Homo sapiens: one gene and its partner. The protein of the gene in region 1 purifies or fractionates together with the protein of each later gene. This does not show direct contact. Each region holds a gene or a part of one and is shown on either strand. Other genes may lie near its edges.

Region 1 (4,525 bases):
TAAACAGGTGCCATTAGGAAAAACAGAGGTTTTCACAAATGAAAGCTCCTTCCCTCTCCCACACCCGCTCGCATATCCTCCCTGAAGACAGAGGCCAGAAAGTGAGGCTTGCTCTTCATGGTGCCTGCCGACCTCTGCAGCGCTGGACCCCTGTGGGGGAATGCCAGGAGGCTTAAGAGACACTCCCCTGCCACAGACACAGTAAGGGTTGTGTCCACAGAAATTCGCTTTAATGTTCTCTAACTAGGACTTGACGGATCCATGGCCAGGCTGACAACTCCACACAAACGTGAAGGAACCTGACAGGCAGGTGCCGACATGAAGCAGGTGCAGGTGGCTCCGGGCAAAGCAGCAGCTCCCCAGTCACCATCCACCCCACCTGGGGAAGTAGCACCTCCCCCATCCAAGGTCCACCCCAACCCAGGAGAAGCAGCAGCTCCCCTGTCTGCCATTAACCCTGACCTGGGAGAAACAACACATCCCCAGCCACCTTGCACACTGACCTGGGAGAAACAGCCTCTCCACCATCCACCTTTCACACTGGCCTGGGAGAAGTGGCACCTCCCCCATCCACTGTCCAGCCCAACTTGGGAGAAGCAGCCCCTCCCCCATGTACCATCAACCCCCACCTTAGAGCAGCAGCTTCCCCTTTCCACTGTATACCCTGACCTGGGAGAAGCAGCCCCTCCGCATCCATCGTCCACCCTGACCTCTGAGAAGCGGTGCCCCCCACCCCCATGCAGAGTGCACCCTGATTGCGGGTGATGCCTGAGGTGTGGGAGGGGCGGGGGTTAGCTGCTGCCACTGCTTCTCGTTCTCTCGAGTCCTTGCTCTGTGCCTGCACGTCAGGTTGTTCCTGTGATGGGGCCACGTGCAAGTGTGCACCAAGGGGACTTGGCCGGGTACTGTACGTCCACTGGGACACACCCTTCTACGGGTATTGCACGTCCACTGGGAGACGTCCTTCTAGGGGATCCTCACTGAGCAAATGAAGCAGAATTTGGGTAAAAATGAATTTTCCCAAAGCTGCAGTACAGCTTTTCAGTCCTCTAACTGCCTGAGATAAATGTTGGCAACTTCCTTTTATATTAAATTTCATTTTTGTCACATAATACACTTGATTATTGACCATAATAACTTTATTAATATACAGACTGATTATTGATACTCACCGATGTATTTCATGTGTTATTGAGAGTCACTCATTTGGTTTAGAAAGACCAATATCACATTGAGTAATTCGAAACATATTTAAGGCATAGAACTTGCATTTTTTTCTCTTAAGCAAAATGAGGAGTTCTAGCCAATCTTGCTAGTGTTATTTATAGCATCTTATTTCCTGAGAGAAGACAGGAAAAGTGAGTCCCTGCCTTCCCTCTCTCCGTCTGGCTCCTCCCAGGCCTGTCTGGCAGGGGCCGGGGTGCAGGAGGAGGAGACGGCATCCAGTACAGAGGGGCTGGACTTGGACCCCTGCAGCAGGTACTCGGAGCAAATGGTGAGATCAGAAGGGGGATGATGTCATTCCTTCGAAGGAATGAATTAAACGTGCTTCCTCGTGTGTCTGATTGACAGCCCTGCACAGGAGAAGCGGCATATAAAGCCGCGCTGCCCGGGAGCCGCTCGGCCACGTCCACCGGAGCATCCTGCACTGCAGGGCCGGTCTCTCGCTCCAGCAGAGCCTGCGCCTTTCTGACTCGGTCCGGAACACTGAAACCAGTCATCACTGCATCTTTTTGGCAAACCAGGTACGATTATTTCTTAAACTCAATCAATTATTTAATGGTGCTCTAATTTTAAGAAATTAGAGTTCTCGAACTCTAAGAAGCGGAGAAGAAAAAGGAGCAATTTCGATTCTTAACTTAAGGTGGGTGGTGTATCTATTAACACTAAATGGCAAGTGTTTCTTCACGTGGTGTTTCTACTGCCCGCTTGAAGAGCAAGGCACGTGGCCGCTCCTCAGCTTTTCCTCCGTGGCTGTGCTTTCACCAGCCGGGCACCCCTTCCTCTCTGAGGGTTGTGGCTGCTGCTATTTCAATGTATATACCTGCCTGGGAACCCGGGTAAACGCTTTATGTTTTCAGTTTCCGAAGAAGAAGATTCCACATGAGAGTTTGTTATTGAGGAGAGAATTAGAAACAACTCCCGGAATATCTGAAAAGTAACTGGAGATTAGAGAGAGACTCTGATTGTTAACATCATTATTAGTAGATTAGAGAGAGACTCTGATCGTTAACATTATTAGTAGATTAAAGAGAGACTCTGATTGTTAACATTATTAGTAGATTAAAGAGAGACTCTGATTGTTAACATTATTAGCAGCTGAAAAGTGGTTTTGAACATAACTAGAGAGTATTTGTGGTAAGTCTATGGAAAATCCTGTGACTGCCGGGACACACAGCGACTTTTAACAGTCTTGGGGCAGTTTGCATATGAAAAGCGAGCTGGCAGGTTGCCTGGCTACCACTTAAGGAAGGTGGGTTTGGCTGCCCAGGACTGGGAGCTGAGCACCCAGGAGTCTGGTGTTTAATCAGACTGCTGTTGGTGGTGGACGGCCGGTAAACAATTAGCTCTCTGCAAAGCTATCTTTTACTTTGATTGTTCATACGAAAAGAGTTTTAAAAGACCTTTGCAAATTCAAACTACATTCTGCTGCAGACAGGCACCGAAATCTTTCTTTTGGAAAAACACAAGCATAAACGTGGATGTGTGGCGTGCAGAGGCTGGGGCAGGGGTGAGCGGCACTGGCTCATCCGTGGCTCCATCCATGCATGCCCGGTGTCCCTGGATGGGCTGAGGCCAGGTAGCCTGGCTGCTCATCCTTCCTGTGGGATGGAGCCTCACTGTCCTTTGACAATCCGCAGCAGGGGATGCTTTGTTAGCCTCCTGCTCTTGTAAGAATCTACCTCAAGGCAGAGACAGTAGGATCTGGTTTCGTCAAAGGAGTTTGATTTAGTTTTTCTAACCTGTCCTTATGAAGCTGGGCATCCAGAACTTTCGCATTTACCATCCTGTTCTTGGCTGGCCTCTGCAGGGCCAGCCCCACACAGCTGTCCTTAGGGGACTGCGACGTACCCGGCAGTGTGGGCTGATGAGGTGGGGAGGTGGGAAGAGCCTGCCAAGGCTGTACCTGAGCTGTGTATTCTAACACCGTTCTGTGGTGCTTACTGCATGCAGGTACTGTTCTAAGCTCATGGCCAAGTGTTCGCTCCTGTCATTAAACCCTCTTAAGAGCTCCATAGAAAGGCCCTATCAGCACCACCATTATTACTGCAGCTGCCTCGGGCAGTTAGAGTAGAAAGCGCCCCAGACCCAGAGGCACATTCTGCTCCGGTAACCCATGCCTGTGGCTCGCTGGGCTAAGTCAGCCCCTGGTGAAGTTTCATTTGCCGAATTCATCTCTCATGACAACCCGATGAGGTGGGCATTTTACATGACGCTACGTTTCATTCTACGGATGAGGAAACTGAGACAGAGAAGTTAAGTAAGTTTCCCTAGGTTGCACAGCTGGTGCTCAGCATTGCTCAGCCTGGTGCTGACTCCGGCCGCAGGCCGTGCTGCTTCCGGAGCCAGGACAGATGAAACAATCACCAAGGACCCCTGGGGCGGCACTGGGGGGAGCAGATGGTTTGGGGGGGGGGTCCCAGCAGCAGATGGGTGGGGGGTCTGCAGGTGCTGCCAAGCATTTCTCTTCTTCTGAGGAATGTTTCTCTATTCCTGGAAGGTGAGGATTTCCAGGTTACCAAATGTTGTTTCTGGAGAGGGAGAGTCCTTGGATTAACAATGAGAAGTTAACGGCCTTTGATATTCTAAATATGGGAAGAATTGGGGTCTCAGTCTTCCCTTCAACCTAGAGCAGGGTGTGACCAATTGCTGGAAGGGACCTGGGGAGCCCTGGGACCCTCAGGCTCATGCTCGCCCGGAAGAGGAGAAGCTGAGATCCACAGGGTTAATCGCCCAGCCGGGCTTTGGACCACATCTCCTGACTTCGGGGCCAGCCTCCACTGAGCTGTGCCAACTTAAAATCCCCAAGAATGGAAAAACAGGCCTGCAGGAAAATAAAGAGGCAGGGTCAAAATGATGGCTAAGTCAAGTGTTCTGTTGTTTTGTAAGTATAATTCACCAAATTAAGTTTATTTGTAACTTTTTTTTACAGTTGATATTCATTCTATTTAATTAGGTTATGCATAACTGTTTTTTGCTGGATATTTACACAAAATGCGTTCACAGATTATTTTTGTCAGGCTGGATATTTTTCTAAATTCAAACTTTCTACATCTAAGTCCTGTCTACGAGTCGTATGAACAGAATTACTCCAGGCAAGCGCTGAACTTGCCCATCTTCCATTTGCTCATCTGTAAAATGAGGACAATTAGAGCAGCACATACCTCCCAGGCTATTATGAAGATGAAATAATAGGAATATTTAGAACGTGATGTGCAGTGCTTGCCGGCAAATGCTAGCTCAACAAATCTTATAGTTAGAAGAATCCTGCTTGAAGAGTAAATTTCCTCCTTCGCTCTCAGTT
Region 2 (3,813 bases), on another chromosome or scaffold:
GGTGGCTCACACCTGTAATCCCAGCACTTTGGAAGGCCGAGGCAGGCAGATCACCTGAGGTCAGGGGTTTGAGACCAGCCTGGCCAATATGGTGAAACTCCATCTCTATTAAAATACAAAAAATTAGCCCAGCATAGTGGCACATGTCTGTTATCCCAGCTACTGGAGAGGCTGAGGCAGGAGAATTGCCTGAACCCGGGAGGCGGAGGTTGCAGTGAGCCGAGATTGCACCATTGCACTCCAGCCTGGGTGACAAGAGTGAAACTTCATCTCAAAAAAAATTATAAAGAAATAATATCAGTGACTAGTTAGTATGTTTCTGTAGGGCTTAGTACAGACATGTATTAATTCTTCTAACAACTTCTTGAGGTTAGTACCTTTACTCCTTCTTATCGTTAAGAAACCTGATGCTTAGGGATGGGCACAGTGGCTCACGCCTGTAATCCCAGCACTTTGGGAGGCCAAGGCGGCAGGACTGCTTGAGCACAGGAGTTCAAGACCAGCCTGGGCAATATGGTGAAACCCCGTCTCTACCAAAAATATAAAAAATTAGGCATGATGGCACATGTCTGTGGCTCCATTTGTTAGGGAGGAGGGTGAGGTAGGAGGATTGTTTGAGTCAGGGAGGCAGAGGTTGCAGTGAGCCGAGATCGCACCACTGCACTCTGGTCTGGGTAACAGAGTAAAACCCTGTCTCACACAAACAAAAAAAAGATATAAAAGAAACCTGATGCTTAGAAAGGTAAAAAGGGCCAGGTGTGGTGGCTCATGCCTGTAATCCCAGCACTTTGGGAGGCCAACATTGCTCAAGTCCCAGAGTTCGAGGCTGTGATGAGCTATGATCACACCACTGCACTCCAACCTGTGTAACAGAGCAAGACCCTGTCTCAAAAAAAAGACTTGGACTGGTTCAGGTCAAGTACCCACTCCACAGCTAGAGGGATGGGATCAGCCTCTCCCAAACCACAGGAGTGACTGCCGGGGAAGAGTGATTCCTCGAGGGTAAATTGAGATGTTACTATCAAAAGAAGAGAGATTGAGATTGCATTTGGCTAACGGTTTAAATAAAGAGGGTTTATTTTCTCAAGTAAAAGAAAGTCTAGAGGTAATTTCTAGCATTGGGTCAGCTACGCAACTGTGTCATTAGAGACCAGCCTCTTTGTAGCTTTGCATTCTAGTATCGTTAGTGTTTTGGCTTTTATTCTAATGCTTAGTACGTCATGGTCTCACATAGCTGCCATCACTTCAGAAATCGAGTCTGAGTTCAAGGCAGAAAGAGAGAGACTAAAAGCCATGTTAGCTGTGTTTGTCCCTTGGTATTAAGAAAACAGAAGCCTTCCCAGAAGTGCCCCCAGTAGACCTCTCAAGGGTCAGAATTGACTGGGTAACACAATCAACTGCAGCAGCAAAGGAGGCCGAGAAAGCTTCTGGATTTCCAACCTCTGGTGGGAGGCCATGAGGTAAAGAGGGTAGGAATGAATTTGTTTTGGGCCAACCAACCTGTTCTGTTTTCCACAAGGTTGAAGGTGACAACTGGTATCTACTGCAAATGTCAAACTAAGACTTTTGGCCAGGTGCGGTCGCTCACACCTGTAATCCCAGCACTTTGGGAGGCCAAGGCGGGTGGATCATGAGGTCAGGAGTTTGAGACCAGCCTGATCAACATGGTGAAACCCCGTCTCTACTAAAAATACAAAAATTAGCCGGGCATGGTGGTGCATAATCCCAGCTACTCGGGGCTGAGGCAGGAGAATCGCTTGAACCCAGGAGGCGGAGTTTGAAGTGAGCCAAGATCACGCCACTGCACTCTACCCTGGGCAGCAGAGCGAGACTCTGTCTCAAAAAAACGAAACAAAAAACCTAAGACTTCTATGCGTAGTTTGCGTTCTTTATATTGTGTCCATTTAAATGACAACATCGTGACTCTTAATTGGGACCTAGGAATTTACTTAACCAGTCTCTTGGTATGAAGTCTCTAGATGATTTCTAGCTCTCAGTGTTTTCTTCTGCTGTCACCAATCCTAGGACAGAAACTGGAGGTCTTAAGTGGAATTAGTGAGGGCCACATCAACATAGGATCCCAGACTCTGAATCTGCCTCCATGCATGTAAGAGCCTCATTGTCAGGTCTCTTTTTTATTTCCAGATTTTGGGGAATGTCTCAGAATTCCAAAGAGTGGTTGAAGTGCTCCAGGACAGCGTGGACTTTGATATTGATGTGAACGCCTCTGTGTTTGAAACAAACATTCGAGGTAAGGGCTGCTCTCTAGGACCTTTAAAAGAAAAAAGAGTGTGAAGTTGCCTCTGTAAACCAAGAAGTGGTAAATAGGATTTTAAGGACTGACCATGCCAGGACCCTTGGCCAAAACCTCTGACCGACAGAGCTCTTCTTCCCTCCTGGAGGGTGAGGTGGGGAAGTCTCAGGATTTCCCCATCAGTTTCAGATATGAAAGTGAGCAGGAGACTAAGAGACTGGAAAGAAATACACCAGATTACTCACCTCTTTAATATGTATTTGATACTAGGCATACAGCTATGAACAAGAAAGATATGATCCTTGCCTTCTTGGAACTTATTGTCTGTCCAATCCAATTTTCTGCAGTGATGGAAATGTCTTATAGCTGTGTTTTGTCCAGTATGGTAGCCACGAACCACATGAGCTATTGAGCATTTGAAATGTATCTACTACAACTATGGAATTGAATTTTTAATTTCATTTAATTTTAATGATATTAAATTTAAGTAGTCACATGTAGTTAGTGATTATTGTATTGGACAGTGCAAATCTACAGCATTAATCTTCCAAACTTGGCAGCCCATAGGAACCACTCCCAAGTGGTTAAAAAATTCAGATGTTGAGACTCCACCCTAAACCTAATGAATTGGAATCTCTGTGTTGGGTCCTAGAATCAGTATTTTTAGCAGACTTCCAGTGATTCTTGTGAAGCCAGCACAGCCCTTATTTGCATCGAACCTCTAGACCACTTAACAGCTGTCACCTCTGGATGGCAGAGTTCTATTTTTCCCCATTATTTTGTATGTTTTCTGCAATGAAACTTATATTCCAGACATATGATCCATAAAAGATTAAAAAAGAGAAGAGAGCAGAGGGACAACATGGTCTAAAATCCTGGTTTAGGAATCCGGCCTGAGTTTGAGGCTGTACTTGCTGCTATGTCTCCCAGCTTCTGAGCCCAGTTTGTCATCTGTAAATGAAGGTCATTCTTATACCTTTATTTCTGATAGGAATATAAGTGATACCAGCTTTCTTTTGGTTGACATTTTCCCATGTATCTTTTTCTATCCTTTCCATCTTTCTGTAGTTTTATGATTAGATACATCTTTTGCAAATAGTGTATTATATTTTGTTTATCCATTCTGACAATCTTTAACTGGCACATTTAATCCATTTACATTTACTGTAATTACTGATATATTTGCACTCATTTCTACAGTATTGTGCTCTCTGTGCCGTCTTCTTTTTTTTTTTTTTTTTTTTTTTTTTGAGGCGGAGTCTCACTCTGTCGCCCAGGCGGGAGTGTAGTGGTGCAATCTTGGCTTACTGCAACCTCTGCCTCCCGGGTTCAGGCGATTCTCCTGTCTCAGCCTCCTATGTAGCTGGGATTGCAGGTGCCTGCCACCGTGCCCTGCTAATTTTTGTATTTTTAGTAGAGATGGGGTTTCACCATGTTGGCCAGGCTAGTCTCGAACTCCTGACCTCAGGTGATCCGCCCCCCATCAGCCTCCCAAAGTGCTGGGATTATAGGTGTGAGCCACTGCACCTGGCCCTGTGCCATCTTCTTTATGTTCCTTT

The links.
Region 2: the proteins of THBS2 (region 1) and EDEM2 purify together in Homo sapiens (affinity purification with mass spectrometry; 2 studies listed by BioGRID and IntAct, with this or other methods). This does not show direct contact.

What each region holds. Positions count from the first base shown.
Region 1 is NC_000006.12:169,250,944-169,255,468, reverse strand, and holds the start of THBS2 (thrombospondin-2 isoform 1 precursor), read left to right. Parts: upstream 1-1,622; 5' UTR 1,623-1,745; intron 1,746-4,525. UniProt on the Homo sapiens protein: Adhesive glycoprotein that mediates cell-to-cell and cell-to-matrix interactions. Ligand for CD36 mediating antiangiogenic properties.
Region 2 is NC_000020.11:35,140,811-35,144,623, reverse strand, and holds part of EDEM2 (ER degradation-enhancing alpha-mannosidase-like protein 2 isoform 1 precursor), read left to right. Parts: intron 1-2,145; coding exon 2,146-2,251; intron 2,252-3,813. Other genes in the region: MMP24-AS1-EDEM2 (ER degradation-enhancing alpha-mannosidase-like protein 2), read left to right, coding at 2,146-2,251. UniProt on the Homo sapiens protein: Involved in the endoplasmic reticulum-associated degradation (ERAD) pathway that targets misfolded glycoproteins for degradation in an N-glycan-dependent manner.